3 separate regions of the Homo sapiens genome follow, and all the other regions are linked to region 3. The links come from fine-mapping of genetic effects on gene expression. A gene starts in region 3. Each other region holds a variant in brackets. All regions are shown on one strand. Distances are between the middles of the regions.

Evidence for each region. PIP is the estimated chance that this variant, and not a neighbour inherited with it, causes the effect.
Region 1: its variant is fine-mapped to the expression of MYO9A in whole blood (INTERVAL, PIP above 0.99).
Region 2: its variant is fine-mapped to the expression of MYO9A in whole blood (INTERVAL, PIP above 0.99).

Annotation. Positions count from the first base shown.
Region 1 is chr15:71,982,632-71,992,922 of GRCh38, forward strand. It overlaps MYO9A (myosin IXA), which reads right to left. Exons shown (of 42, transcript NM_006901.4): 11 at 8,472-8,606. It also overlaps a transcript of MYO9A-AS1 not described here. Among named protein-coding and RNA genes, the nearest start is that of MYO9A-AS1, 5.6 kb to the right of the region's middle. The variant T/C (reference allele first, on the strand shown) is at 4,113.
Region 2 is chr15:71,819,528-71,829,818 of GRCh38, forward strand. MYO9A (myosin IXA) reads right to left here. Exons shown (of 42, transcript NM_006901.4): 41 at 8,357-8,499; 42 at 2,764-7,516. The coding sequence ends at 7,053. Among named protein-coding and RNA genes, the nearest start is that of NR2E3, 14 kb to the left of the region's middle. The variant GTTTTTTTTTGTTTT/G (reference allele first, on the strand shown) is at 6,458.
Region 3 is chr15:72,113,891-72,124,181 of GRCh38, forward strand. It overlaps MYO9A (myosin IXA), which reads right to left and starts at 4,260. Exons shown (of 42, transcript NM_006901.4): 1 at 3,790-4,260. SENP8 (SUMO peptidase family member, NEDD8 specific) reads left to right here and starts at 4,513. Exons shown (of 2, transcript NM_145204.4): 1 at 4,513-4,574. RefSeq lists an enhancer at 3,202-3,411 and a silencer at 3,612-4,381.

The DNA of each region.
Region 1 (10,291 bases), 130 kb before region 3:
GGACAGTCAGTGATGGATGCCCACAAAGGCACTAATCTCATCTTCTAGATATTTTAAATCTTCTGTATCCTTACCAACTTTTTGAACACTTATTCTATCAGCAAGTCAGCATGGTATGTTAAAACATTCCACTATGATGGTAAATATATTTTTCTTTTTTGAGTTTTATTCATTATTGCTTTATATATTTTGAGGTTCTGCTATCAGGTGCTTATAAATTTTGGACTGTATACTACTTCCCAAGGAAGTGAATAATGCTAAAGGGTAACATTATTAAATATTCCTTTTTATCTCTAGTAATGCTTGAAATATGATATTAATATAGCTACAACTGCTTTTTTTCTTAAGGTTTACTAAATCTTTGCTCATCCTTTTAATCTTTCTATATACTTATATTTAAAATGTCTCTCATAAGCAACAATCAGTTTAGTTTTGTATTATATCTAGTCTGACAATCTTTAGCTTCTAGTTAGAGCAATGAATCAATTATATTTAATGTAATCACTAATATTTGTGAGATTAAATCAAACACCTTACTACTTGTTCTTTGACTTTCATGGCATTCCTTTTATTTCTTGCTTTCTTCTGGATTGAGTGTTCTTATTTTACTTATCCTCTGTATTTTTTTTCAAGTTTTATATTATTTTACTATTTTTGGCAATTCTAGAAAACATGTATCCTTAACTTATCACTAACAGAAATAATATCTCTGTAACTTAGCATTTAATACAAAGATCTTAGAGTATCTTAAATTCTATTTACTCCTAACTTATATGCTATTACTGTCATGTATTTTAGTTACATTTAAACATTAAATAGTTTTTTATTTTTTTTATTTCTTTTTTTTTTTTTTTTTTTTTTTTGAGATGGAGTCTCGCTCTGTCACCCAGGATGGAGTGCAATAGCGTGATCTCAGCTCACTGGAACTTCCGCGAACCCTTCCCAGCTACAAGCAATTCTCCTGCCTCAGCCTCCTGAGTAGCTGGGATTGCAGGCGGCTGCCACCACGCCCTGCTAATTTTTGTAGTTTTAGTAGAGTCGGGGTTTCACCATGTTGGCCAGGCTGGTCTCACACTCCTGACCTCAGGTGATCCACCTGCCTCAGCCTCCCAAAGTGCTGGGATTACAGGCGTGAGCCACCACGCCCAGCCTAAATAGTTCTATTTAAGCCATAAAAGTTATTTTTAACTTTGCCTCATTAATATTCATTTAGATTCAACGACTTTTTTATAATTTTCATTGCTCTTCATTCCTTCCTGTACCTGAGCTACAATAGGAAACAACTTGCTGCCTAAACAATATACCTTGGTTTTAAGGAAAATATGCCATTGTCTCCTAGCTTCCACTATTTCCACTGAAAGGCTGACTGCCAAGTCTTATTGTTGTATCTTTAAAGATAGAGATGTCCCTGACTTACGATGATTCAACTTTACAATGGGGTGAAACTGTCATAATTTCTGCAGACTTTATCTTTGCCTAGGCTGGTGATATGTGGTACATGAGATATTCAACATTTTTACTATAAAATAGGTATTGTGTTAGATGATTTTGCCCAACTGTAGGCTAATGTAAGTGTTCTGAGCACATTTAATGTCCTGCACATTTAAGGTAGGCTATGTCAAGTTATGATGCTTGGTAGTTTAGATGCATTAAATGCATTTTTGACTTAAAATATTTTCAGCTTGGCAAGGAGCAACTGTAGTCTCTGGTTTCCTCTAGCTGCTTTTTAGACTTTTTTCATTGTCTTTGGTTTAGTATAATTTTCTAGGTATAAATATCTTTGTATTTAACATGCCTTGGATTCTTAAAGAGCTTTTCAAATGTATGCTTGTTGGGTTTGTTTTTTTGTTTTGACAGTTTTGGAACATTCTCAACCATTATGTCTTCAAACACGGCTTCTAACTTATTCTACGTCTCTCATACACATCTTTCCAAAATTCCTATGGCACATGTTAGACCTTTTTACTATGCTCTTAGAGTATAAGTCTCTTTCTTATCTTCATTCATTAGGCTCAGTATTTTCTTCTGGTCTATCTTCCAATTTACTAATTTTACTAACCTGTATCTTACTATTAAAAACCATCTGTGTCTTTTCAATTTCACAGTACTTTTTAGTTCTAGGTTTTCCCCAATTTGGGATTTTTAAAAGTAATTTGTAGTTCTTTAATAAAAATATTGCACCTTATTTTTTAAAATTTCTTGAAAGCATGGTTAGTTTCCAGTCCATGTCTAGTGCTAATATCATTGGCTGGATCCACTGTGGTATTATTATCTCATTTCTCTTGGGATATTTTGTTGTTGTTGTTGAGACGCAATCTCACTCTGTCACTCAGGCTGCAGTGCAGTGGTACAAACTCAGCTCACTGCAACCTCCGCCTCCTGGGTTCAAGCAATTCTCCTCCCTCAGCCTCTTGTATAGCTGGGATTACAGGCATGTGCCACCAAGCCCAGCTAATTTTTGTATTTTTAGTAAAGATGGGGTTTCACCATGTTGACCAGGCTGGTCTTGAACTCCTGACCTCAAGTGATCCACCTGCCTCAGCCCCCTAAAGTGCTGGGATTACAGACGTGAGCCACCATGCCCGGCCACATTTCTCGTGGTTTTTATTCATGCTGGTTTGCCTCCATGTATGTCTTTATGTCTCTGTCTGTCTCTCTCTCTCTCTGTTTTGGACTGAGTGTTAGATCCTGTATATGAAAAATTATAAAGATAATTTTAGCAGTTGGATGATGTCTTCTTCTGGTGGAGATTGTATTTGCTCTTGGCAGGTGGTTAAGAATACTACAAATTGTATTTTAACCTAATTGGGAACTGAGATGATTTTAAACTGGGCTTCAGTCCTTCTGATGCCAGGTTTACTTCTGATTTACTTTTGTCTGAGATGTAACCCTTTAGGGATCTCAACCTAAAGCCTATAGGAATTACCAAGGGCCTCCTCCTTATTTTTGAGTCAGAAGAAAACCCTGCTCAATTCCTCATACTCTCAAGCCTGGCCCTTTTAGAATCAGAAACACTACAAAAATAACGAAATGTCTCTAGGAACAAAGCAGCACCCAAATGCTGGGCTCACTTCCCTAGATTTCTTTCTTATAGTCTAGGCCCTGTAAAACTTATTTGAAGGTACTCCAATGCCTTCAAATATATGTTGTTGAAGTTTTTTGGTTGTTCTCCAAGGTAAGGTTCATCAAAAGTTTCTAGTCTGACAACAACAAGTAAAATGGATGAAACAAAAACTTGCTAGATTATGAGCTCCTCAAATAAGATCCCTGCACTCTAAATTTTCTATCTTCTATGCTTAGCACACTGCCTGGCACACAACTGTTGTTCAATTTACTGATGAATCAATCAAATGAAGAGTAATTCTCAGCAAGTAAGGAAAAGAAAAAAGAGGGCAGTAATACAAGTAACAGAAAACATACAATTGGCCCTCCATATCTGCAAAAGTTTCCACATTTGTAGATCCAACCGACCACATATCAAAAATATTTAGAGAAAAAAATGCAAAAAATATAAACTTAGAAACAGTATAGCAACTATTTACATACCATTTACAGTGTATTAAGTATAAGAAACTGAGAGATGATCTAAAGTATACTGGAGAATGTGCATAGGTTATGTGCAAATACTATGCCATTTTACATAAGGGACTTGAGCATCTGTGGATTTTGGTATTCTTCAGCAGGGGGTCCTGAAACCAATCCCCTGTGGATACCCAGGGATGGCTGTACTTTCAAATATCAGAAACCTCTTTGGGTCTGTCTCTTAGTCTACATTACAGTCTCTACCACTACCTTGATTCAGTTCAGAATCACTCACCCATTCTACAGTCATGTGCCACACAAACACATTTCAGTCAAGAACCAACTGCATATACAACAGGGATCCCTAATCTCACGAAAAATTCATATTATCTACTGACGTCTTGATCCTGACCCTGTGTAGGCCTATGCTAATATGCTATGGTAATATGTATGTATACATGCTAACATGTATGTATGTGTCTTTGCTTTTAACAAAAAAGTTTTTAAAGTTTTAAAAAATTTTAATAGAAAGAGGGCTTATAATTATATAAAGAGAAAACATTTTTGTACAGCTGTACAATGTGTTTGTG[T/C]TTTAAATGGCTACTACAAAAGTCAAAAAGTTAAAAAAGTTTATAAAGTAAAAACATTACAGTAGGCTCAGGTTAATTTATTACAAAAAAATTAATAAATTTAGTGTAACTTAAGTGTACAGTGTTTATAAAGTCTAACTAGTGTGTGTACAGTAATGTCCTAGGCCTTTATCACCACTCACCCAACATCTCACCCAGAGTAACCTCCAGTCCTGCAAGCTCTAATCATGGGAGGTGCCCTATGTAACTGTACTATTTTTTATCTTTTATATTGTATTTTTACTGTATCTTTTCTATGTTTAGATACATTTAGATACACAAATACTTACCATTGTGTTGCAGTTGCCTACAATATTCAGTGTAGCATGCTGTACAGGTTTGTGGCCTAGGAGCAATAGGCTATATCATATAGCCTAGGTGTGTAGGAGGCTATACCAACTAGGTTTGTGTAAATACAGGATGATGTTCATACAACAGCAAAATCACCTAATGATGCATTTCTCAGAACATATCCTCATCATTAAGTGACACATGACAGTACTTCAACTAGTTCATAGATTTTTCTCCTTCTTTCCAGTTCACTGCTCTTCAGTTCAATTCAAGTCCTCTGCTAAATATACTTCAAATAGCTTCTCATTGTCTGAAAAATTCTAATCTTCCCTGCATGACATATAAGTCCACTGTTTTAAGTACAATGTGTATAATGTTACCTTTGCCTAAAATATCTTTTCCCATTGACAATCTAGTGAGCTTCAGCTCACTATTTGAAATTATATGCCAGAATCAACCCTGGAAAATTTTTGCAGCCTTTCAGGTAGTTCCAATCAACCCCATCCTTTGTGTAACTACTTTACCTTATATCTGATTATAGCATTTACATCCTGCATGGCAATTATTACATCTCTCTCCCATCCTATATGCCTATGTACTCCTTTTGGACAAAATTTAGAACCAAACCACAGTCATCATATTGAAGATTTTTCCTACAAATGTACCTGTGATACTGTACCTTCTTTTTAAAAATTTTAACCTTAACTTATTTTATACTCAACTGAACTTAACAAGTAATCACTGAGTACCCATTTCATACCAGTTACCAATGAGGTACATATAAATAAGACACTTAACAAGATTCTGATCCATAATTGCACCACATTGCCCAAAATGCTGACATTCAGGGTAGCAAGTAAATGAGAATCACCCATCTTCCAAGTAGTTTTGAACACATTTTCCATAAACTCTAAGGTTTTTTATTTTTATATATAATACGTTTATGGCCAAGGCATTTCTTCTGGCTGTCTAATCTAGACTTCTAGAAAAGAATAATTTCAGTTTACAATAAAGAATGTTTGTCTTTTTCAAAATCAATTTAACCAATGTTCTGTTTAATGATCCACAGAGCAACTGATGTTCTGCTCTGTAAAATATAGAACCCAGAAAACTAAATGCATTCCCTCACCCTTCTAACACATGTACTTATTTGCAAGAGATAAAGAATATTAACTTAGTATGATTTATGTAAGAGTTTTGGACTGATTCAATAGACATGGATGGCAATCCCAGCTTAGCTTTTGATTAAAAGAAAATATTATAGAGCCAGAGTGTTAAGGTTTGAATACTGGCTTTAGACAACATCTGAAAAACTAGAATAAAAACAGTACTGACTGATAAGTAACACTACATAACTCGTAAGTGTTAGCTAATATTATAACAAATAATATCTTTCCAAAGCTCTAGGGTAGCATCTAGCTAACAGATTATATGTTTAAAACTTTAAGCATTCATCAAGTTGGCCAGGACTAATATTGTCATGCTATTGTTAACCAGCCATTATGTCCTTTAAGCAAAATAGAGGCACTTTTTTAAAAAGCTAAGACAGCAACAAGATCCAATGATAGGAGACTTGATGATATAAAGATCTTTTCTCCCTCTTTTCTGTAGACCTGCTAGCTGTTGTAGTCTTTCTGTTCATTCTCTATTCTTAACTATTTCCCTTGAGTTCAGTTTGATGAAACCTGTGTCTGCCTATGTCCTCATACACAAATTCTGGGGTACAATGTAAACCTATTACTGATTTCAACCTTAGTTTGGAGAAAAAGTCCACATTTTGTTTGCCCCTCCCTTTGCACTAATAATTTTCATGGAAACTGAAAGCCCACTCTTTTTTTTGAGATAGAGTCTCACTCTGTCACCCAGGCTGGAGTACAGTGGCGCAATCTCGGCTCACTGCAACCTACGCCGCCCACATTCAGGTGATTCTCCTGCCTCAGCCTCCTTAGTAGCTGGGATTACAGGCTCCTGTCACCACACACGGCTAATTTTTGTATTTTTAGTAGAGATGGGGTTTCACCATGTTGGTCAGCCTGGTCTCAAACTCCTGACCTCGTCCGCCCACCTCGGCCTCCCATAGTGCTGGGATTACAGGTGTGAGCCACCACTCCCAGCCAAAAGCACACTCTTTTTATACTAACTTAATCAATCTTGAGATCCTCATAAGAAATATCTAGTTACCCATCTTGGTCTCTCCATACCTAGTTTCTTTGTATCTACACTCTGTACTGACTTGAGATTCTGTTAAGCTCCTCTATCTCATCCTAGAACTAAGAGACCAAAGCAATCAAACAAGCATACAGTTGGCCCTCCATATCCTCGAGGGATTGGTTCCAGGACTCCCTGTGGATACCAAATCCACAGATGCGCAAGTCTCTTATATAAAATGGCTTAGTACAGTCAGCCCTCTGTATATGCAGGTTTGTATCAGTAGTTTTGTATCAGCCATGGGTTGAATGCTTGGATGTAAAACCCAAAGATAAGGAGGACTGACTGACTGTACTTAGCATTACACACAGTGACCAAGCCCATGGTAGCAATTAAAAATCAACACCATTGTTTCCAAACCCCTGTGTGAAAGAAAAAGAAAAAAGAAAAAAACAATCAACACCAGCAATAAAAACAAAACAAAACACACACACACATCTTTTTAATCAAAGGTTCATTCAAGGCCAGGAGTGGTAGTTCCTGACTGTAATCCCAGCACTTTGGGAGGTCAAGGTGGGAGGACTGCTTGAGCCTAAGAGTTTGAGACCAGTCTGGGCAACATAGTGACACCTTGTCTCTACAAAAAATAAAAACAAAAATTAGTTGGGTGTGGTGACGTGCACCTGTGGTCCCAGCTCTTGAGTGGCTGAGGTGGGGGGACTCCTTAAGCCCCAGAGGTCGACACAGTGAGCCAAGATCACGCCACTGTACTTCAGCTTGGGCGACAGAGCAAGAAGACCCATCTCTAAAAAAACACACTCCCCTGCAAAAACAACAAAGGTGCAATCAAATAAGCATATATAAGCAATTTTTTTTTTTTTTTGAGACAGTCTCATTCTGTTGCCCAGTCTGGCATGCAGTGGCTCAAACACAGCTCACTGCAACATACACCTCCCAGGCTCAGGTGATCCTCCCACCTGAGTCTCCTGAGTAGCTGGGACAACTGGCATGCAATACCACATCTGGTTAATTTTTATATTTTTTGTACAGACAGGGTTTCGCCATGCTGCCCAGGCTGGTCTCTAACTCCTGGGCTCAAGAGATCCACCCACCTTGGCCTCCCAAAATGCTGGGATTGTCAGCTTGAGCCACCATGCCCAGCCAGCAAATCTATTTAGGGAACTATAAAACCTCTGTCATCTGCTTACAATGATATGTGGACCACAATATTTGTATTGAAAGACAAGATTTAGGCTGGGCGCAGTGGCTCACATCTATAATCCCAGCACTTTGGGAGGCTGAGGCGGGTGGATCACGAGGTCAGGAGATCGAGACCATCCTGGCTAACACAGTGAAACCCCATCTCTACTAAAAATACAAAAAAATTAGCCGGGCATGGTGGCGGGCACCTGTAGTCCCAGCTACTCGGGGAGGCTGAGCCAGGAGGCTGGCATGAACCCGCGAGGCGGAGCTTGCAGTGAGCCGAGATTGGGCCACTGCACTCCAGCCTGGGCGACAGAGCGAGACTCAGTCAAAAAAAAAAAAAAAAGACAAGATTTAAAATGCTTATTATGTGCTCTCCACTCTTTTAGTAAAATATCACAACTGATATTATGATAAACAATTGAAGCTACCAGACTACTCTGTTTTATCTCACATTTCTAATCCCATCAGTTGAGTTTACATAAACAAAGAGGCAACGGTATTTGTTCCCAAGCCAATTTACTTCGGTTATTCTTGTTTGTAAAGGCACGTTTCAATATTTAATAAAAACACTATGTAAATCAATAAAATGTGTGAAAAAATGAAGTGAATTATTATGAATATGACTCAAAGATATGTGTGATGGGGGGACAAGTGTATACATATTTAGGTACTCACTTGTTCCAATTTAAAGATATGCTGATTAAAGTAGTGCTGTAAACGTTCATTAGCAAAATTAATACAGAACTGTTCAAAGCTGTTATTTTCATAATCTTCAAACCCAAAAATATCAAGAACACCAATAGACAATGTCTGTAAAACAAGAGAAAGTTTTGATTAAAAGTAATGTTTAAATTTATTTAATGAATAATATCCACAACATAAGTAACAAAATGCTCAATTCCTCTAAAGCAGTGTACAGGGGATTGTGTTTGGCCAGTATTCAAAACATATCATGACTTAAAAGTATTTTAGTTATCTTTATCTTACTTTTATCCTAATTAAAAAAATATATCCAAACTGTTAATACATATAATCTATAGATTACAGAAATATGTGAAGCAAGGTTAGTGGCCTTTTATCTTAAGAAACCTCAGAAATCCCTAACATCTTAAAGGGAATGGAAAAAAACAGAGGGTGAGGAAATCAAAAGGTTATTTCAATGAAGGATCAAGAGAGGTAGGTTACTCCTGGCTATACCAAGAGGACAATGCAATTTTTCCTATTTCGACTTCTACATCCCAATAAATAGAATTCTTCATTAAGAACCAAACTAGTATATTTTATCAGCCTCATGAAGACTGAGTGAAACTAGATGTCAGAACGTATGGTTTCTTTTTTATTTTTGAGACGGAGTCTCGATCTGTCGCCCAGGCTGGAGTACAGTGACGTGATCTCAGTTCACTGTAACCTCTGCCACCGGGGTTCATGCGATTCTCTTGCCTCAGCCTCACCAGCAGCTGGGTTTACCATGGCATGCACCACCATTCTGGCTAATTTTTTGTATTTTTGGTAGAGACTGGTTTCACCACGTTGGCCGGTCTGGTATCAAACTCCTGAGTGCAGGTGATCCACCCGCCTCGGCCTCCCAAAGTGCTGGGATTACAGGCGTGAGCCACCGTGCCCGGCCAGAACATACGGTTTCGTAAAGTTAAAAATATTTATTAAAAAAAAAAAGTATGAGGTTTAAAATGTTGAATAGTGCTAAAAGGATTACAACAAAAGACAGCAATCCCTGCCTCATCATCAAGATCTGCTCCCTAAAGTCAACCACATTCAAATCTTTCAGCTGTTTGGTAGAATACAGAACATAAATGCTTATATTCTTCTATTGCACTTCTAGGAATAATCTAACTTCTTACTGTGGATTTGGCTCTAATACCTGCATATGAACACTTTTCTCACCACCCCAACCCATTCTAGAAATACAGTTGTATGACAATTTTGGTTAAATGAAAATAATTTTTCTCCACTGGTGCTAAGAGATACAACGGGCAAACTGATATGATGAATGAAAAATAGTAAGATCTTTTTTAAAAGCCTGTACTAAGAGTATTTTGTTTAATTCTGCTAAGTCTAGGCCCTTAAAAAAATTAAAATAATGCCCTTCAAAAATAAATCAATTTGATAAATTAGATTACAATTTAAATTAATTTTTATGACTGTGAGTTTACCTGAAGCATGAAAAATTAACATAAGAGCAATTTCACATTTAAGGCAATAGGATTAAATTTAAAAGGTGACATTTTTAATCAGTCTGACAAGGTGGACTAGTCCATGAAGGCTGCCCAGAAAACACAACTAGATGTGAAATGATTAAATACCTATAATCTGCCATATTAAAAATATAGTTAGAAAAAGTCTAAACATAAAAAAATTATAATTATAAAAATATAAGAATAAATATTTTATAATCTTGGGCTAGAAGAGGCCTTCCTCTGTAAGTAAAATACATATACAAAATGCAAAACTAAAAACAAGAAAAATGACAGAATTAA
Region 2 (10,291 bases), 290 kb before region 3:
TTTATCCATATGAGCTAAGCCCTGAGCAAAGCCACCTTAGTAAGACACATGGTTGAAATATGACATGACCAGCCCTGCGTATGTATCTTACAGTTTGGCTTTGGAGGACATGGTAAGACTGCAAAGGTAGCCTGCTGAAGTTCACAGGCTAGCATCTGGGATGTGTGAGCCCAGCACATCTACATTGGGAAGGAGATTTGAGGGCTCTCCAAGAAGTCTTGGAGAATTAGAGGAAGTACATAAGCTGGATTGTCTGCTGTCAATCGGGCATCAATACCACCCCTCCCCCACTTCTAAGGGCTTTTCTTCACTGCAGAGATGCCAGGAAGGAACTACATTTCCCAGAAACCCTTTCCCCTAGGATTTGCTAATGAAAGACACTCACAGGAGATTTTTTCCCCCCTAATGCCAAACTGATTAAATTTGGCATTAGGAAAAAGAGAAGCCATTTTTCTTTGGAGACACTGCAGCCCTGTCGTGGGAAAATAGATTTCATAGCAGCCTCCTGGCTAGAATTGCACTAGCTTCCAGGCAAGCTCTTGAGAACTCCTCTGGAACTTGTAGCTGAGATTTGCGTTGGCTTTCTTGACCTGTGGGAATATCTCTGACCTTTGTTAGATCCTAATTTCTGTATTAAGTCCATCTCACCTGGAATACAAAGTGGCCTCTGTTCTCCTAACCTGGTACAGCTCTCAGCATGTCTTACAGACAAGAATACAAACTCCTGTTTGTAAACCACCTAGGATGATGGCAGCCATTATTCAACTTCTTGTTGTAGATTGGCTCTACAGAAATTCTGATGAGTAATGGCTTTTCCATTGCATTTAGGGTCCTTATTAGGAGGGTAGATAATTTGAAAGCTTTTTTTTTTCCCCCTCAATGCCAGAAATATCTTTGGCTATGAAGCACCACAGAGGTAGTCCCTGTGGGACTATCTGGGCCTTTCTTTTCAAATAAAGCTAGTTTTTAGATTCACGAGACACTCCTCTACCCACAAGGGGATATTTCAAGGTAGGAAGGGCAGGGAAAGACTCAAAGATGCCAAGAAGCGCAACCTCATAGTCAAACCCAGGTATCATGGATGACTAGTCTCTATCTGGTGGACATCACTGGTGTTCCCCACTAGAATGCAGGCTCCACAGGGCAGAGATCTTTGTTTTGTTCACTAATGTACCCTAAGCACCTAGGACAATGCCTGTGGGCACTACCTGGAAGTGACACACTCCTTGACTGTGAGTCTGAGATACCTACAAGATTCAACAGTCAGATATTACATGTACTTTATCTACTTTCATGTTTATATCTCTGGCTCTAAGACACTGTACTGCCACCCATTCTAGGGGCAAAAGCAATTTAAAAAACAAACCAAACCAAAGCTGTGGTCACTTTATAACTTGCCTCTCCTTATATACCTTTCTGTTCTCAGGTCTTCATAATCACAATAGTTGTCTTCTCAGTAATCATCTCAGGGGCAAGTTTTAAGAATGTATTTCGGCTGGGTGTGGTGGCTCACACCTGCAATCCCAGCACTTTGGGAGGCCGAGGCAGGCAGATCACCTGAGGTCAGGAGTTTGAGACTAGCCTGGCCAACATGGTGAAACACCGTCTCTACTAAAAATACAAAAATTAGCCAGGCATGGTGGCAGGCACCTGTAGTCCCAGCTACTTGGGAGGCTGAGGCAGGAGAATCACTTGAACCTGGGAGGTGGGAGTTGCGGTGAGCCGAGATTGTGCCACTGCACTCCAGCCTGGGTGACAGAGTGAGACTCCATCTCAAAAAAATAAAAATAAATAAAAATGGTATTTCTAGGTTTTATTTGGGCAACTAAGGGAATTTTAAACAATTAACACTTCATATTTCAATGTAATATAAATTTAATGCAAAAATGAAAATGTAAATGTAACGTAAAAACAAGTGAGAAGGATGACCCCAGAATTTTAAAAATTGAATACATTTGGCATTAGGGACATGTTTTTTTCCCCATGTAACCTCAGACCTGATTTGGCATTTTGGAACCACTGATCCTAGTCAATCCTCTCATCCAATATCTGCCTAGCCAGCACCTTTTATTAGGTGCTGGGATCTAAGAGTCAGCAAGACAGGTAAGTGTTTGACGCTGTGAAAACTGAGAGCTGTTGAGAACACAGACCTCTAACCCAATTCACAGGGTCAGAGCAAACTTCCTAGGACAACTACCTTTTATACTAAAACCTGCGAGTCAGTAGGAGTTCTCCAAAGCTGGGAGTTTGGGAAACAGAACTGACTTCCAGATAAGAAAACTAACATTCAGAGAGAGCGAATGCCTTTCCCAGACATGCAGTAAAGTTGGTAGCAGAACAAAAATGACAAACTGAGTTAAAATTTCTGTTCCTATTGCAATGTGTTGCTTTGAATTTCAGTGAGAATCCTTGGGCCCTCTATTGGCAACCTCTATTAGCAACTTCTTCAAGTGGCCAATTTAGGGGAGGATCCTAAATGCAGATTTACTGCTTTTCCTCCCTTCTAGCCTTAAACCGATTAAATGAAGTCTTGACAGCCAGCAGCCTGCATCCACTACAGAAAAAACGACACCTTGAATCACACCTTCACTTGAATTCAGTTGAGTTCCAGTGACTACCACCTCTGTGCTTTGTCAACTTTGGGTTGAGTCCTTTCCTGAAAACACATCAGTGTAACTAAGAAGTCACTGCTGTTTCTTGGAGTTGGGTTGGAATAGTTGGAGTGGGAGCCAGGATGGTTGGAAAACAAACCACACATATTGCTGCTTCTGGAAGCTTTGTTCTTTAATGAGCCATGGGGTGATTTGTTCATCAAGCTGCTTTTGTGTAGCCATACAGTGCATATTTTGAGTGACACAAACTGCACTTTATACAGATGGTATCTTGTTACCCCTCAACCCCCCAGCAAAGAAAAAAAAACAAAAAGGAAATTACAAAGTGCCTATTGATTGCATCCGGAATGTAATCAGTTCCGTGGGTGAGATAAATCATTCTTCTTATAGAATTATTCTATTAAACAGTAAAATGTTATATTTCACAGGATATGTCCTTTTATAATACAGTTTTTAAAAAAAATTTACACTCAGCATACTTATAAATTACTTAAAATCCATTAAAATAATATAATACGAATCTGTAGTCCACACCTTTCCCATAGTAAATACAAATACTTGGTTCAAAAGGTGCAACTTTTATATGACCTCAGAGGGCTGATAAATAGGCATTAAGAATGGATGACTAGCAAGGTGACAGGCCCATTGTTGGGGCTTTTTTGAAAATAGTTTCAACCAGGGGACCAACATGAGACCTAATAGATCCATCTCCACAATCATCATTTTGCTGTTACCCTTTCAATACCCAATCAAATGTGGGAGTCATTCCAGAGAAAAGTGGTTAAAAGTAGTCTAGGGCATAGAAAAAGAGGACTCTCACAGATACCAAGGAGTTTTACTACCAAGGCCAGCATGGTATTGCAGGACAGTGCTGGGGAGTTGTCACAAGAGTATGGGTGGACATAACACATTTGTCCATACAGAATGATGCATGCCCCGCATCCAGCTTCCCACCAAGAAGAAAAAAGAGAGGAGGATGAGGAAAGCCATGGAGTGAGTATGTATGTTTCTTTTTAAAATGAAAACTCTCTTAGCTTTGAACACATCCTGAGAATCCTTTCTTCTTTCTAGTTTACCAAAGTGCTTGTTACAGTGAAAAACACAGCCCACAGGCACTGAGGTGGGACTACAGAACCTTGCTGGACCACATCTTTTCAGCACATTTCTGTGACCCTCTGTTTTTGATGGAGAAAACAACGCTACTGTTATGAAACACAGAATGGAGTCTTCATTAATCTTCCAGCAGGGTAAGTGCTCTGGCAGGTTTCCAAAGCATGAGAAGGTGGGGGCTCTAGTATTCCATCCCAGGACCTCTGGCCCTTTTGTCTCTCTCTGCAAGGCTCATAGTTGGAGGGCTGTATCTCCCTTTGTGTTTTCAGAAGCCCAGAGTGGCAAAATAATTTAAATGGCAGGAGGTACAAAGTACGTTGTAAACTAAGCCTCCCTGAATCCTGCTGTATTTGCTGTTGATTTGCTTCAATTTGTGATACAGAATGAAATCACACTTCTCTGCTTTTGTTACATTTTCCATAATAAGTACATACTAAATTACAGGGATACATTCACTTTAATGGGCAGAGTTGAAAATTCAGGTTTTGTTTGGGGCTGGGAATGTGTGCTGTGAGAAGAGTGCTCTGCATTTTGGAGTATGGGCTCCAAATGTGGAGCTGCCCCACTGCTGCCATGCAGAGATCAAACAAGCAAAGGAGAAGCACTATGGAACCACAAATGTGATGCATATTAAGGGCTAACAGTTTCATAAGTGATTGTAATGCGGCATCACTTTGTGGTGACATAACTTTACCATGCAGAGGGCCAGTGAGAACAGATGGATGCAGACACAGCGTTTGGTTCTGAAGGTTTTTAAGAGTTATGGCTTCATCTCTTGATCAGGCCAACAAGGCCTACTACCCTATGTAAACAACGGCTTTCCCTCAAAGGGAGGGCCCCACACTGCTCTCCACTCTTATCATTTTGTGGCTCTCTCCTCCTCACCCACCCACCCCAATCCTGGCAGATTAAATTACTAGAAATCCACAAATCTAGCAACTGAAAAAACAAGTTTTTTTAATTGAATTTTATCCAAACTGGAGTTTCAGGTCCCTGAGAAAAATTATAAAGTCTCTTAACATCCATCACCTAGTTCCTTTAAAGTGACCTACATCAGTCGTTTTTTAACTGCCAAAAAACTTATTTTGCCAAAAAAGCCCCACAAAGATTTAGAAGGAAGAACATGTGCCAACATATGTTCTTCTGGCCATTCCTCTGGGCCACAGGAAATTATTCCATAAGGGCAATCTCTTTTTTTCATACAGGATTTAACCAACATTCTGGAGCAAGTGCAGAGTAACAATTAATGCCCAGCAGTACACTACTCTCCCAAGAACACTGAAACACAGACTGTGCAACCTGGCACGGGGCTGAGGAACCAGCAATCCCACTCTAACACACCATGCTGAGGGGTTTTCCTCTATCCTCTAGGAGATTCTCTGAAATTCAGATTTTTAAAAGCTTAACATTATTTATTACTCCTCAGGACAAGATGAACAAGGTGGCAGATGTCTGTGGGATATAAAGCATAACATTTGCTCATTAACTATCATTATTCTGGAGATTTTAATGGCTTCCTTTCTCTGGCTCAATTCTGAACCCAAAGTAGGGAGAGGTAAGACTCCTGCTACCTTTAGCTGCCACTCAGAATTATGCTCCAAGTCTAACCTCTGGGGCTGGCCAATAACCACTGAGGCAGTGGCGTGAGGTTCAGTGTTGTGTAACAGGAGAGAGAGACTCTGCCTTAACAAAAGACTTAATATTTCCACAACTTCAAAGAAGTATGAAAAGGAAGAATACCCAAAATACAGGTTATAGATGGTAAAGGCTCTTTTTCAGAGCAGTGCATGTAGTAGCAAGACAAGATGCATTTAGTAACTTTAAAAATAAACATTTCACATACTTATCTCAAGAAAGGCTATCATGTTTCATTTTTTATATATTATAAATAGCAAAAACAGATTTCTAATCCCACAAATGCTAAGATACTTAAAATGCTATTATAACTCATGTGTATGAAGACCACCCAGTGGTGAAAATGATGTCTTACTAATTCCCTCAACCCAGGGACGAATGGCTCTCATCCCCCTGTCCAGTGGCCCCTCATCTGTGGGAAGAAATTCCATGGGAAGGAGGGAAGCACAAGGTTAAAAAGAAATATGCCTACTATACATACATATTTACAATAAACTTCAGTAACCAGAATATTAACAAAAATAGCTTCAAGTAGTCCTTGATTTTTTTCCATCTATTTAATACTGATAGTCTGAGAAAAGGAAGATAAAAGTTAGTTAGTTAGATAGGTCATATTAAAAACCTTTTTATTTTTTGGCAGCTTTCTGTAACACTTACTTACTTATTCATGCAATATTGTATGTGAATGTTTTTGGAAACTAACTAAACGGTCACATTATTTGTTTGTTTGTTTGAGTCTGAGTCTGTGGTGGGAATCCACCAGCAGATGAACAGGCTCATATGCGGTTTTCGGTTTAATCTATACAAAGAGAAAAGCCTGAATGGCTTAGGATGAAACCTTCATAAGTTTAGGGATCACCATGTCTCTGGGAAACTAAAAAATAATGTAGAAGAATCTGATCCTAGGACCAAGAAACATGAGAACAGTATGGCTACTGACACTTCAGCCCATGCAATGTATTTGGCAGGAACTAAACAGGAGTTAAACCAGCACTGATTACTATGACATCAAACATCATCAAAAAAAATAGGTATTCTCTTCTTCACTGTATAACAAGATATCTGAGACACGCTCTGATGGCTTAATGGAAACAATCACG[GTTTTTTTTTGTTTT/G]TTTTTTTTTGTTTTTTTTTTTTGTTTTTGCTTTCCCCAGAATATAACATGGAGTGTTTTTTCAGAAATCTTAAAATAGAGGGATTAGGCTTTTTGTTTGTAAGTAAGTTTTTGGAAAAAAATTATATTCTACCCTAGCTCCTAACTATCCCAAAATAAACCCAAAGGCTTTTGCTTTCACGGTTAAGAAAGATTTATACGTTTTCTTCAAATGTCAGAAATGAGAGGGTCCCTCAGGACAGCAATATCCCCCCTAGTTCAACACCCACCTTTGGGAAGGGAAAAGAGGGTGGGGGAGAGGCAACTACAACTGACCCAAATCCCCAGGCCCTAGGTGGCTTTGTATAGTAAAAATCTCAATTCAAATACAACAGCCAAGGCACAGCTGGCACCATCCCCAGCAGGCTTTCTGCTTCTGCAGGAGGCCCAGGAATTCAGCACATACAGTCTTAGCCATATGCTTAGAAAAGAGGCAGGACCACAATTAGGATTGACTATTGTGGACGAGGTGATGAAACGCAGCCCCAAAGGTGAGATTTGTTTACCACTCTGTAGCCACGGAGGGACACACATCTGCCGGTTCAGACCATAAATTCATTATTTCCAAAGAGTGCTAGCTGTTGGTTGGAGGTGCAGTCTGGGTCCACAGTTTTTCTGCGGCCAGACATGACTGTCCCCTCTGGGGTCTCTTTGGTTTTCTGAGGTGAGTTTTTCACATTCTTTAATTTTTGTTTGCCCTTTTCCGGGTTGAAGGTTCCTCTGCTGATGAACTGAGGCTTGTCTTCCAGGAATTTGGTCTGGCCCAATGGTCCTTCCATTCCCAGGGCCTCATTACCTGAGGCAGCTCGGTAGAATGGAGATTTGGAATAAATCTGAAATAGTTTTCTGGTCCCATGAGATGATGCCGTGTTAGACAGACATAAAGAGGAGACCGAAGAGTCCACGACATCTAAAGAGTCTTGCTGCTTTTTAAGTTGCTTTCGCAACTTGCTGGAAGGTTCAGACTTGCCAGCTGTCTTCAGGGAGCTAAGGGCTAAGCTTCTTTCTAATGCAAAAAAGAGACCAAAGATGTAAATGACAGTGCCCTCTAAAGCAAATCATCATATAATGAATAGATGCCACTGTTCACACATGAAATTGGGTGGGATAAGATTCAGAGGGTCCAGGATGACTTACTATGGGCACAGTCACAGTAAGAGCTCACCATCCATTTCTCTATGTAGCATTTCCGAATCATCTCCAAGGAAATCTGGTGTTTGACTATGCCATCAGCGGAGGCCTAGAACAGTCACTATCATTTCAAAAACTGCCAGGATATGCAGGTAAGTCCTACATCTCCCTGAGACATGCCACCCAGTTAAACACCTCCTTTGTATATGTATATAGTCCCACCTCACAGTGGGGGCACAATGCCTGCCACCCTCAGAAAATGGGTTATGGGTCAGTAAGACAACATATATTGTGATTATTGGCTTTTCTCTGTGGTAAGTACAGGATAAAACATTAAATTACCAAAAAACAAAACAAAACAAAACAAAAAACAAAAAACTCAATCACGTTGAAGAGTTGGTTTGATAAACAATGTATATGGAAGCTTTACAAAGACAACAGGAAAAAAAAGACCTTCCGTGGAAGTCAGGAATCTAAGTAGCAAAGACAATTATATTTCTTATCCCCTTATATTTCTTATCCCCATCCAGGTCACTACCTGTATGCCAAACGATGAAGGCTAAAATTATATGGATAAAAGGACAAAATTCCTCAAGACTTTGTTATTGCTGATGTACAGTCAGTAAATTCTTAAAAGACTTTGTCTTAGTTTTGGAATCTTTATTCCTCCTTTGCAAAACAAATCTGGAGTCTTTGGTCTACCATGTTCACTTACCTGATTTCTCAGAGATAGCATATTCAGACTCCATATTCAAATTCTCTGAGCTATCAGCAGTCCCAATGGAGGCCTCAGACTCAAGGGTTTCATCATCAGAGGCACGGGGTTCCAGTACAAGCATCTCAAATGTTAGCTCCTCCCTGTAAGACACAATCAAGAAACCATTAGCATTTGATAGGAAGTGGAAGGAAGATAACAGAAAAAAAGATCCTCCATGGAAGTCAGGAATCTAAGAAGCAAAGAGAGTCCATTTTTACTGTCCCCATCCAGGTGGTGATGAGGACCTGTATGCCAAATATGGTGAAGGCTAAAACTATATGGACTAAAGGACAAAATGACAGATAGCCAATCTAGGACCAATAATAGGGGTAAGGGTAGGGTGAAGAAAGATGTAGTGGTGAGATCTTTCAGTAAAATGAACTCTGGACTGATAAGCAGGAGATCAGGGCTCTAACCTTGTTCATAATATCCATAATGCATCAGGAAAGTACCTTTCTCTTCTGGACCTCAGCTTCCTACCACAAAACAAAGAGATTAAACTAGATAACCTCTAAGATTCCTTCCAGCTCTTAAACTATTTTCCATGAAGCTTACTAACTGGCTATAGACGATACCCTCTATCTTCACCACAGAGACCTCTAGACGAAGAAAAACACTGATTGATCTTTTCTGTCCTTTGAAGCTTATGCCATCTTCAGTTGTCGTATTCTCTAGTCTCCCTTCTTCATCACGGTCACCCAGCTACCTCTCAGTAATGCCCCACATTCTGTGAGGTCTTTGGTACTCAGATCCTAATCTTGCTTTTTCACTAATGCCTGACATCACCTGATCTATTCAATTAATATCTTTGTAAAAACTCATCTGAATATTCTAACACTGAAGTTCCTTTATGTCTGCAACTTCTAACAATATTCTCCTCTACTTTATCTAAGCTACTTTCTCCAATGCACAGATCCTGGAGCTTGTCATTACTCTGAATCCAACACTCCACCCTGTTCACAACCTCCTTATCCTTCCAATTCTTACTCACCTTCTAATCAAGTCTCTTCCCTAACAGAGCCCCTTACCTTTACTTCCCCTTTACCTGGCTTGAGATCCATGAACAATCATTTCAAGAACAGTATCACCAGCATTACAATTGTCTGAGGCCATGTGCATTCTGAGACTCTGCTCGTTCTTCTTTCTTTTTCTAGAGACTCTCCCCTTCCTTGAAAATTCCTATTAATCCTTCAAGACTGCCAATATCATCTGCATCAAAGCCAAACTGGGTCTTCTTTTCAGATCACTCTTCTAGCAAATAGCCCCTGGTCAATGTACATCATCTTTGCCTTATCATGTTTTTTACAGCTGAGCCCCAGCTGCTTTTTTAGCTGGCCTATATTCCAGAATCAATCATGAGAGACCAAGAAAGTATTTTAACAGTCTTATATCCCCTTATAAACCAAACTCAAGACCTGGGATCCTGGAACTCAGGAATAAAGATCCCATTAAGACTTCCTAAGAGTCATCAATGTCGACCAGAACTATTACACAGCACCTGTAGGGAGAACCATGGCACGTTCATATTATCCCCAAGGCATACTGTCACCCAATCCCTGCAACAGTGATGAATGGAGGTAAAAGAGCTTCTCATTTGTCTCTCTCCTAAATTGCAACCAATTTCCCTATCTAGTATCCTAGCACCCTCTAGGGCTATAGCCTTACTATGACCATCTAGTTGCTGTTCCCATGGTCATATGGATCTTTGGCTAATAACCTTCCTTCATGGATTTGTGAATAATGCCCATTCTTGAAAGGGACTTTGGCTTAGCCTAAGAATTCCTTCTCTTCTTTGCAAAATAAATCTGTTCATGGAGGCTGGTCTCCGACCTGTTAGGACTCCAGTACCTCATCTTGGCTCCCCACTGTTACTGCTAGATGAATCGTGACTAA
Region 3 (10,291 bases):
TCTTTTAAAACGTTTTAAAACAATTGCAGCCAGGAGGCAAGATGTTGGCATGGGGGTCACATAGTAGTTATAAGGAGCAGAAATTAGTAATAAATGGAAGCTATGACATAGGGGGAAAAAAACTGAAGAAAGAAACGGTATCTAGGACAAGCTAACAATGGAGCACTGGAGTGGGGTCTCCAGCTTTATTAGGTTCTTGTTCTTCTTGAGAGCAAGTTTTATTAGGTTCTTTTTCTTCTTGAGAGCAAGTTAACTTTTCCTGGGTTCCCTTGTGTATGGTTCCTTTCAATAAGCACTTCATTACTTAAGGTAACTTGAGTCTCTTCCCTCCAAGTGAAAGAGCCTGACTAAAAGAGCATTTTAGAATACTTACTCCAACAGCAGTCAAGAGAATGAACAGGAGGGCATGACAAGAGGCAGAAGACAGAAGGCAAGAAGACCACTCAGCATTACAGAAGCCCAACAAACAGATATTTTCAGTTAAAATAAGATAGAGGCAACAAAAAGTAATAAGGAATGACCTGAAATATCATGAGGGAAAATGTACAAGGCAGTGACAGACTGGATGTTGGCAGTGAAGTACAGAGTGAAGCGGAGGGCAATTCCCAGGTTCCTGAAGGTTTCATGAGGAAAGAGTGGTGCCATTAATCAAGGTAGGAAATCGGGGGGAAGAAAAAATTTTGTTGCAGTTTCTGTCTCCGGCTCTCTCTCCACTGTTTTTGTGGGGGGAAAAGAGGCAGGAAGAGTTTTGTTTCCTAAATGTTTGGATTGAAGTGTTTGTGAAATGTGAATCAAAGTGGTGATATCCATTAGGCAGTGCTTTTACAGGGGTCTAGAGCAAAGGCAAGCACTCTAGACAGCAGTTCTAGACTTAGGAATCAATACATTAAGTCAATATTGTGGTTTTTAAAATGTCTGAAAAGTCTTTGACTAATATTTATTTCAAACTGAGTTAACATAACCAAAAATCACTCCAACTAAAAACCTTAATATTCTTGGCAAATCATATTTTCAAACCTCCTACATTTCTCTGCTATTAAAGACTGAACAAACTTCCACATAGTATAATCCAAATGATTAGGAAAGATGGAGTTTATATCGCTAACTTCTATTGAGGTACTTGTTAAAAAAAATCTAAGTTTACCCAATTTCCCTCAGGAACTATATACTACTAAAATAACTAAGGGAAAACAACTGTTAAAAATTCATATATTAGATAGTGAATCTCACTGTTAATGCTTAAACTAGAATAAGTTTTTTAAAGGCACTTAATCATGTAATTTACTAATTTAAATATTCAACTCTACCTGTAATTTAAATGTTGGGTTTCCATCCTAAAACCTTTTCTCCTCCCTTCTGTATGATTTTGCCTCCAAAATCTACTGCTATCAACCCAGAACCTGATACTGAGCTTCAGCCACAAATCCAAATGCCTAATGGTCATCTACATCTGACAGAACTACAGTCACCTAAACTGAACATGTCACAAATTAACCCCTCTATCCTTCCTCCTTGACAAAATAAAAACAAAATCCCACTCCTTCATGGGAATCCCCACCTCAGTGAAAGGCACAAGCCAGAAACCTAGATTTTATCCTGTATGCAACTTCTCCCCAACCCCAAATACAATAAAATCACCAACTCAACTCCGAATATCCAAGTTCAGATCCAGTCTCACCATTTGCCTGGATAACCCTAATATTCCTGGCCTTTAGTCTTATTCTACTCTTCAATTCACTGCAGCCAGAATGACTTTTTTAAAATGCAAATCTGATCATTCCAGTCCCCTGCTTTAAAATCCTTCAATAATTTAATAAATATTATAATCATCATCACAGCTAGTCACACTGTGGAAGCTCAGAGGTTCAATGAGAAATTTAGTTACATCCTTTCTGTAGGTTCAACATAAAAGAATCATCAGGAATTTTTTTCAACTCACAAAATTATTTAAACATACATATAACATCAGACACATTTAAAAGAAAAGCATGTAACATTGTTGGTAAAAGCAAAACACCAAAAATAACCTCCAGTCCACAAAAATGGAATACTATCCAGCCAGTAAATGAGGCACTTCCATATGTATTGTTAAGAAATGACCTCTAGGATGTAGTATTAAGTAAAAAAAACAGGCTATGTATAGAATGTAAAGTATGCAACCATTTGTGTACAGTGTCTTAAAAATATAAATGTGTAGGTTTATATATTGGAAATATCACAGAAAGGATACACATGAAGCTGGAAATAGTGGTTGCCTCTAAAGAGGAAAAATGGGTGGCTGGAGAGTGAAGGCGGAACAGAAATTTTTACTACATTACTCTTCCGAAACTTTTGGCTTTTACGTCTAGTTATTATCTATAATTTTAATGTGATTTTCTCCTGTTACTTTAACATTTTTTACTGTGTGTGTGTGTATGACTACAAAGACCTCTTTATATTTCATCTTTATACCAATATTAAAATTACGTACTGATCATTTGATGCAACATTACATTTCTTTCTTGACAACTCAGGAGCTCAACTTCTACAAACATTTTATTCAACATTTTACTGCTATTGAGAAGGCTGTTGTTGGTAATGACCTCAGTGAACACTGCATGATTTCTGTACTTGCTTCTTGGAGAAGCAAGACAGCAGCACCAGGCAACAGAAGTTTATTATTAAACCGACATCGAAGCATTCAGGGATTAAGGAATGCTACAAATCTTATTTTTCTAGCAAATCCAAAAAACAGTGAATCCAAAAAAAGTCCCCTAGTATCCTTTAAAAATAAAAATAAGAAACAGTTCTAGTATCTGCAGCAATCGACAAGGAGGTGAAGTAATACTACAAGACGACATAGTTATATCCACTAGTGCAACGTGATTTAATCCTTACAGAGGTCCCTAAAACATCAGTGCTGGACAACCTCACACGTTCTACACAGAACAGACAAGACGAGGTGCAGGCTCTGTGACCTTATAATGGCACACACACAACTGGCCTCATGCTTCCATAACTTCACTCTGCCTCCCACTTTTTTCAGCCCAACCCCTCCAAACATGGGTCTCGGTCGGTCCCCTTAAGCCACAATGGAGGGAATACATTAGGCTAAGCAAATATTCCCTCAGGATTTCATGGCAAAGCCCTTTCAACCAAAGAAAGGATCGCGACTAAGGAGAAAGATAACAAGGTTTGCTTGAGGAGAGGTCTGTTGAGAGAGGCTACAGTCGGTGGTGGGAGAGAAGCCAAAGTCTGTGACGGTGTCTAGAGGGACTGACACCACATCTACCGGGAGTAAGAACACCATGACAGCGGCTATCTGAAAGCCGTGATGGCTAGGGTTAGTGCTAGTCGGCTTGGTGATGAGCGAGCTGGGAGGGGTTCTACTAAGAAGAGTAGGGCGAGGGGCACATGGGGGACGCAATGGGTTAGGGGGCGGTCGAGACTTTGCCTGAGAACTGTAATCACGTCAGCCCAAGGGAGGATGTAACGTAGTCTAGAAGCTCCATTAAGAGTCCTAAGGGACTCTGAGGGGTACTAATGGGGTCTGCTGGGTTGGGGGGACCGTGACAGAATCTCCGGGGAGGCTGGAGGGCCGGAATGGTGCCCGGCCAATGGAAGATACAGGGGGTGGGGTCTACTGGGGATCCGGGGCCGTGATCTGGTGTTTGGGAGGCTCGGCGCAGACCCGCTCGCGGGGCGTCTCCGCTGGGACGGGGCGGGGCGGCCCGACCGGAGCCAAATAGCGAGGCTGAGACGTGGGCCAGGACGGGCTGCAGGGCCGCTGGGCGCTTGGGCGGGTCTTACCTCGGGCTCCGCCGCGGTGGCCACCGCAGCCCCCTCCTCTTCGACGGAAGCTGCCTTCCACCCTCCGCCCCAGGGTAGGACCGGAGATGGCAGAAGAGGCCGAGGCCACCGAGGGTCGGACGGTTCCGGGAGGGTGGGCCCAGCAGCCTCAGGGTCCGGGCGAGCGGCCGCGGCGCATCCCCCGCCCTGTCAGAGAGACTCCGCCCGGCCTGAGCAGGCACATCCCCCGCCGCACCCCGCCCAGAGAGCACGCGTTGGACCGCCGCCTCAACCGCTGCCAGCGGCCGCCTCTGCCGGTGCAACTACTGCCTCCGCCGCCGCCTCTCGCAGTCCGGGCTGTCCTGTACTCTCTCAACAGACACAGCCAACCGCCGCCGCGTCCCTTATCCGCTTCGGTCGCGCGCCCCCGACCCCGCGCACGCGGCCCCGCCCCGCGCGACTCCCCGGCTGCAGGCGAGCAGGCGCGCGCGCACTTACCTCCCACGCCCCCTACTGCCAGCACGGGTCGGCCCCGCCCTGTCCCGCCCCCGCACGTGACGCCACTGGAGAGTACAGCGTGCGCTTGCGCAGACACGCCCCCTTTCCTACGCCCCAGGCGGCCCCGCCCAAATTTTTTCTTCTTCACCTTACGGCAGAGCAGGGAACTCAGCTTTAGATTCTCCCTGTACTGGAAAGGGATGTCGCAAGGTTGGGGACGAAACCTCTGAGTTTGCGACCGTAGCTGTCGCTTTCCGGCCAACACAGAGGTGCCTGAAGGCTGGTTGGGGTGGTGAGGCCCGAGGCAGGTAAGAAGCCTCCTCCCCACTTCGGTTTGTCTCGGCAGTGGATCGCTCTCCCACCCACTCAGATTCTGGCGTATCCGTGCTCCCTCCCGATTCTGGACCTGGATTCTCAGCGCCGCCGGTCATAGCCCCCGCCCCTTTTCAAACACGCACGCTCTCTCCACCCACTGCCCCCTCCATTGTCCCCGCCCCGACCTCCGTTTCCATTCATTTCTCAGACTTTTCACTGAGTGGTTTCCATGCCTTGGGTTCCAGAATGTCAGAGGCGAATTAAGTGGTGTCAGCTTTTTGAAGTGCTTTTGTATAGGAGACCGTGAGAGAATCCGCAGTGGTAGTACAATAAAGTGACAATAGAGAAAAATGCACGGGATGCTGTCTGCGCACAGAAGAGGGGTCCCAGGTTGTGTAGGAGGATAACGTGAGGAAGCCCTTTCCAGGGTGACTTTTGGGTCACTTTTAGAGGACTGTGTTAAAAGACTAGTAATCCAGTACCTGGTCAAAGAAATACGAAAGGAGGTAAAAGCAGAATAACGGGCGCAAGAGCATGTGACAGTGGTGGTCTGAAAGAGAAAAAAGAAGTAAAATAAACCTGATGGAAACCGTACTAGTGTAGACTTCCCTTTAAAGAAGCATCGTTATAAAGTTAGAGAAATGAGGAACGAGAATATGGCCCTCAGGAATGTTTTCTGTTTAGGTAGAAGACTCAAAAGCGTACCATGAAACCGAGAAGTGGCCTCTTCGAGGGTGAGGGAGGCTAATTTATAAGATCAAGATCACTAGTGGAACGCAACCTTGTATGTGCATTTGAATCACCTGGGAAACTTTTTGTTAAATAAAACCAATACTGTTGCCCCACTCTAGACCAATTAAATTCTGGGTTGTGCCAGGTGTCATTACTGTTTTAAAGCTCCACAGGTGACTCTAATGCTAAAGATTGAGACTCACTAAACTAGAGAGAAGGAAGTTGAGACAGTTGGCTCTGTAACATTAAGATGGAGGTCATTTAGCCGGGCGCGGTGGCTCACGCCTGTAATCCCAGCACTTTGGGAGGCCGAGGCGGGTGGATCACGAGGTCAAGAGATCGAGACCATCCAGGCCAACATGGTGAAACCTCGTCTCTACTAAATATACAAAAAATTAGCCGGGCGTGGTAGCAGGCGCCTGTAGTCCCAGCTACTCGGGAGGCCAAGGCAGGAGAATGGCATGAACCCGGAAGGCGGAGCTTGCAGTGAGCCAAGATCGCGCCACTGCACTCCAGCCTGGGTGACAGAGCGAGACTCCGTCCCCGCCCCCAGAAAAAAAAGATGGAGGTCATTTAACTACAGAGAGGCTTGGAGATGGAATGAGAAACTTGAGCGGCGTTATGTTTGGAATAACTGGTCTGGGAAATGGGAGAAGGAGCCACTCTTGCCTTTCTCTTCAGCACTGTTCATTCCTCAGTGTTTATCAGGTCCAAATTAGTTACTTGTCTCTTTGCTCTCCCGTTCCCTTCCGTCCAGGATTGGTCAGCTGTTGTCTCCAGCCTTAAAGCTCAAAGGCCATCCCCACTTCTGTCCCCAAAATGATCAGAGCTAAGCCAATTTATGAGATGCAGAGACCAACATCCAGAGCTAAGCCAATTTATGAGATGCAAAGACCAACATCCACTCTCATAGAGATTACTACATACAGTGCCTTGCCAATTTAGAATCTTTTTCTATTATTTATCATTTAAGTTAGTAATGAGATATAAAGATATTTAAAATACAGCTCAATTAGGATGGAAAATTACCGTATTAGGGAAAGCAGGCCTTTAAACAAAGAATTCACTTGGCAGGCAGAGAAGCTGTATGAGGTAAAGACCAAGACAGTGTATGGCTGCTATCTATTAACTAGGGTTAATCCAAAAACCTGTCTATCAGACCCAGATAAGAACGAGTTATTGTTGTCTAGTATGGCTAGAGCATAGTATGGAGAGTAGAGGTGGGACAGAGATGAAGATGATAAAGTGGGTGTGAACAGATTATGAGGAGCCTTGAATTCCATGGTGAAGAGTTTAGATTATATTACTAGAAGTAATTAATAAGTACAAAAAAGGTTCTTAACCTCTTTTACCCAGTGGACCTTGTTGGCAGTCCACCTTATAGATTCAGTCTCAGAAAAATGTTCTTAAATATATAAAATAGAATACGTAGTAATATAAAGGAAACTAATTTTGTTAAGTTTTTAAAATATTAAAACAAATGTGTGATATATATGCACTTTATGCATTAAATAAAATCTGGCAGCAGGTCTAATTATATAATTTCTAAGTAGTGATGACTATAAATTATATTTTGAAATGCCTGCAGCAACTTTAATGTGATGTGAAAATATCAGATTTCTATTGGTAAAAAAGAGAGTGCTAATATTGTAGTTTGTGGTCCACACTTATTGAAGAAATGCTAAATTTCAGCTACTGATTATTGAAAACAAAGATGCAATTGTTTTCCCAGTCTAAGTTCACAGAACCCTGATATTCTAGCCACATCCTGGTCTATGGATCCTAAGTTTTAAAATATCTCAGTATAATGGTTTTAAGCAAGAGCATGACATCAAATCTGTGTTTCAGAAAAATGATGAAGCAGTGTTCACTTCCCAACCTCTCTGCTGGGATGAGAGGCTGGCTCTGGGGCAGCAACCAGTACTATCCCACTGTTTCCTAATAACCAGGGCCTGCAGAGGGACTGAGCTTGTGGGTGTATATGTCTGTGAGAGTAATACCAGAAAATAAATCAGGAAAGGTAGATTGGGGCTATTTTTGTGGAAATCATTGAATGCCAGGCTGTAATTTGTAGTTACTTTGGTAGACAATGGAGGGTTGTTAAAATTTTTTGGAGTAGAATAATGTGATTAGAGTTCTGTTTGAAAATCTAGAATAATGTGCAGGTTAGATTATCAAAAGAGAAGATAGGAATGAAGAGACTAGAACAATAAGTTAATTAATTTTTGAAAAATGGAATCTTGGGCCAGGTGCAGTGGCTCAGGCCTGTAATCCCAGCACTTGGGGAGGCTGAGGCAGGAGGATCACTTGAGCCCAGGAGTTCAAGACCAGCCTGGGCAACAAAGTGAGACCGTGTCTCTCCAAAAAAAAAAAAAGAAAATTAGCCAGACATAGTGGTGCCTGCCTGTGGTCCCATCTACACGGGAGACTGAAGCAGGAGGATTACATGAGCCCAGGAGGTCGAGGCTGCAGTGTTCATGCCACTGCACTCCAGCCTGAGTGACAGAGAGCCTGTCTCCAAAAAAAATCTTGAGGTGATCTCTAGAGTCTGCTAAATTCCTTTATTTCCACAATGTGCTGACCAGTCTAGAGTAACATACATTGGAATAAATGGCATACCTGTCAACAGGAATATATACCCCAGTGTGGGAGTCAGTTAACTTTATGTGGTCAAGAGGCTAGCCCAGTCTTTTGTATTATAAATGATATTGTTAGTACTTCTAATAAAGCAATGGCCTTACCATAAGTTCACAGATCTTGCCAAGGCCTTCCTCAGTCAAACTCCATCTATACCTGTGAGTCCTACATTTCTGACTTTTAAAAGTCAGAACCTGTCTATACCTGTGAGTCCTACATTTCTGTCTTTTAAAAGTCAGAACTCCTCTCTTTTTGCCAATTCCTTAAACTTCTTGGATGGGAAAGAAGTTTAGTTTAAACACATTAGCAAAAGAATGGGAGGTCCTCAAGGCCCAGGCAACCCATCTCCTTTGAAACTGATCAATACCGGACTATAAAAACTTACTGCTCAAATCCAGCTAGTACCCAAAGTATGTACTGTCTATATACCTGTCTATACCTGTGAGTCCTACATTTCTGACTTTTAAAAGTCAGAACTCCTCTCTTTTTGCCAATTCCTTAAACTTCTTGGATGGGAAAGAAGTTTAGTTTAAACACATTAGCAAAAGAATGTGAAGTCCTCAAGGCCCAGGCAACCCATCTCCTTTGAAACTGATCAATACCGGACTATAGAAACTTACTGCTCAAATCCAGCTAGTACCCAAAGTATGTACTTTTTAAATGTATTCTAAAAAATTGAATTTGGGGTTTAGGTATTACTGATCCAAATGAGTCCTATAAAATTAACTTCCAGAACTAGGTTCTCAGAGAGGCCACCATTACCACCTTCTTCAACATAACTAGCCTATATTGACTTTCTGTCCATCAAATAATTGGAGGCCATTTGGGTGGTGATAGGAAGAATTAAGTTTATGCAGAACTTGAGGTTCAGCTATCTGACACCTTTTGCGGGAGGAGGAGGAGTGGGTCTATCTGAAATCAGAAATAATACTTTTATGAGGCTTTTTAATAATTTTTATTACTTACAGAAAATTTCTGAAAGTTCCTTTCTCTGGCTCCCAATTAAATGGCTTACTCCACAATCAACTTATAAAAGCACTGGATCATTGTCTTGATCCCAAAAAATTTGTCCCAACTATAGTTACTATTTTGAGCATCTGTATTATTGTTTGAAAACCTTAGGCTTGCTTTCCCTGATGGCCAATGAATAAAACTCTCAAAGTCGTGTGATTCATTACTCATTAATTCATTAGATATTTATTGAACCTCTACTATGTGCCAGGCACATTTTTGAAACCCACTAATGAGCAATTTGTAATGACAATTTACCTCTTAACTATCTATGAAAAAAATAACTTGCCAGGATTTGAAATCCTTAGAACAAATGAGATTAAAAGATCATAGCTTTTTTGTGTTCTTTCAAATAGTGTGTTTGCATAGAGCTGCCATGTGCTGACCACAGTGATTATCTGTGAAATGAGGTAAATCATGGCTTTAACCACTCCTTATCAGACTTTGTTACCACATGTACTAAAATAAAGTTCTGTCTACACCTTTATAAAATATTATCTTACACAGACGTCTTATTAATTCTAATGGCCTCTCCACACCTGACCCTCACTCCTAGTCATTTCAAAGTTTGCAATTGTGTAAAGTCATTTCTCAGAAAATTTGAAGCAAAACAAAGTCACCACAAGAAAAACTTGGTATACACCAGGTTTATATTGAGGACAAAAACTGTGACACAATTACAAATGGAACTTTTTTTTTTTTTTTTGTGATGGAGTTTTGCTCTTGTTCCCCAGGCTGGAGTGCAGTGGCGTGCTCTTGGCTCACCACAACCGCCACCTCCTGGGTTCAAGCAATTCTCCTGCCTCAGCCTCCCGAGTAGCTAGGATTACAGTTGTACACTACCACGCCTGGCTAATTTTGTATTTTTAGTAGAGACAGGGTTTCTCCATGTTGGTCAGGCTGATCTAGAACGCCCGACCTCAGGTGATCCACCCGCCTTGGCCTCCCAAAGTGCTGGGATTACAGGCATGAGCCACCGCACCCAGCCTACAAATGGAACTCTTGAGGTAGAAATGGTAGACCAGGAATAAAATTATTTTCATGGTCAATGACACCTTAGCCATTGATAGCTGTGCCTAGTTACAGAGCAATAAATGGAGAGCCTTGGTGTTAGATGAAATCCTAAAAAGTCACCTGTTTTATCTCCTTGGCCCCAGACAGAATAAAGTGGAATTTATAGCAGTAGAGTTACCAAGCATCATCATCACACCAAGTAGGTTTTGTACTTTGAGAGCTGAATTCCTCTCTGAAATATTGATGTTACAGGAATGTTGTTTAAATTCATAGCTCATTTATAAAATTGAGAATATTTCTTACATTTATAACTGTG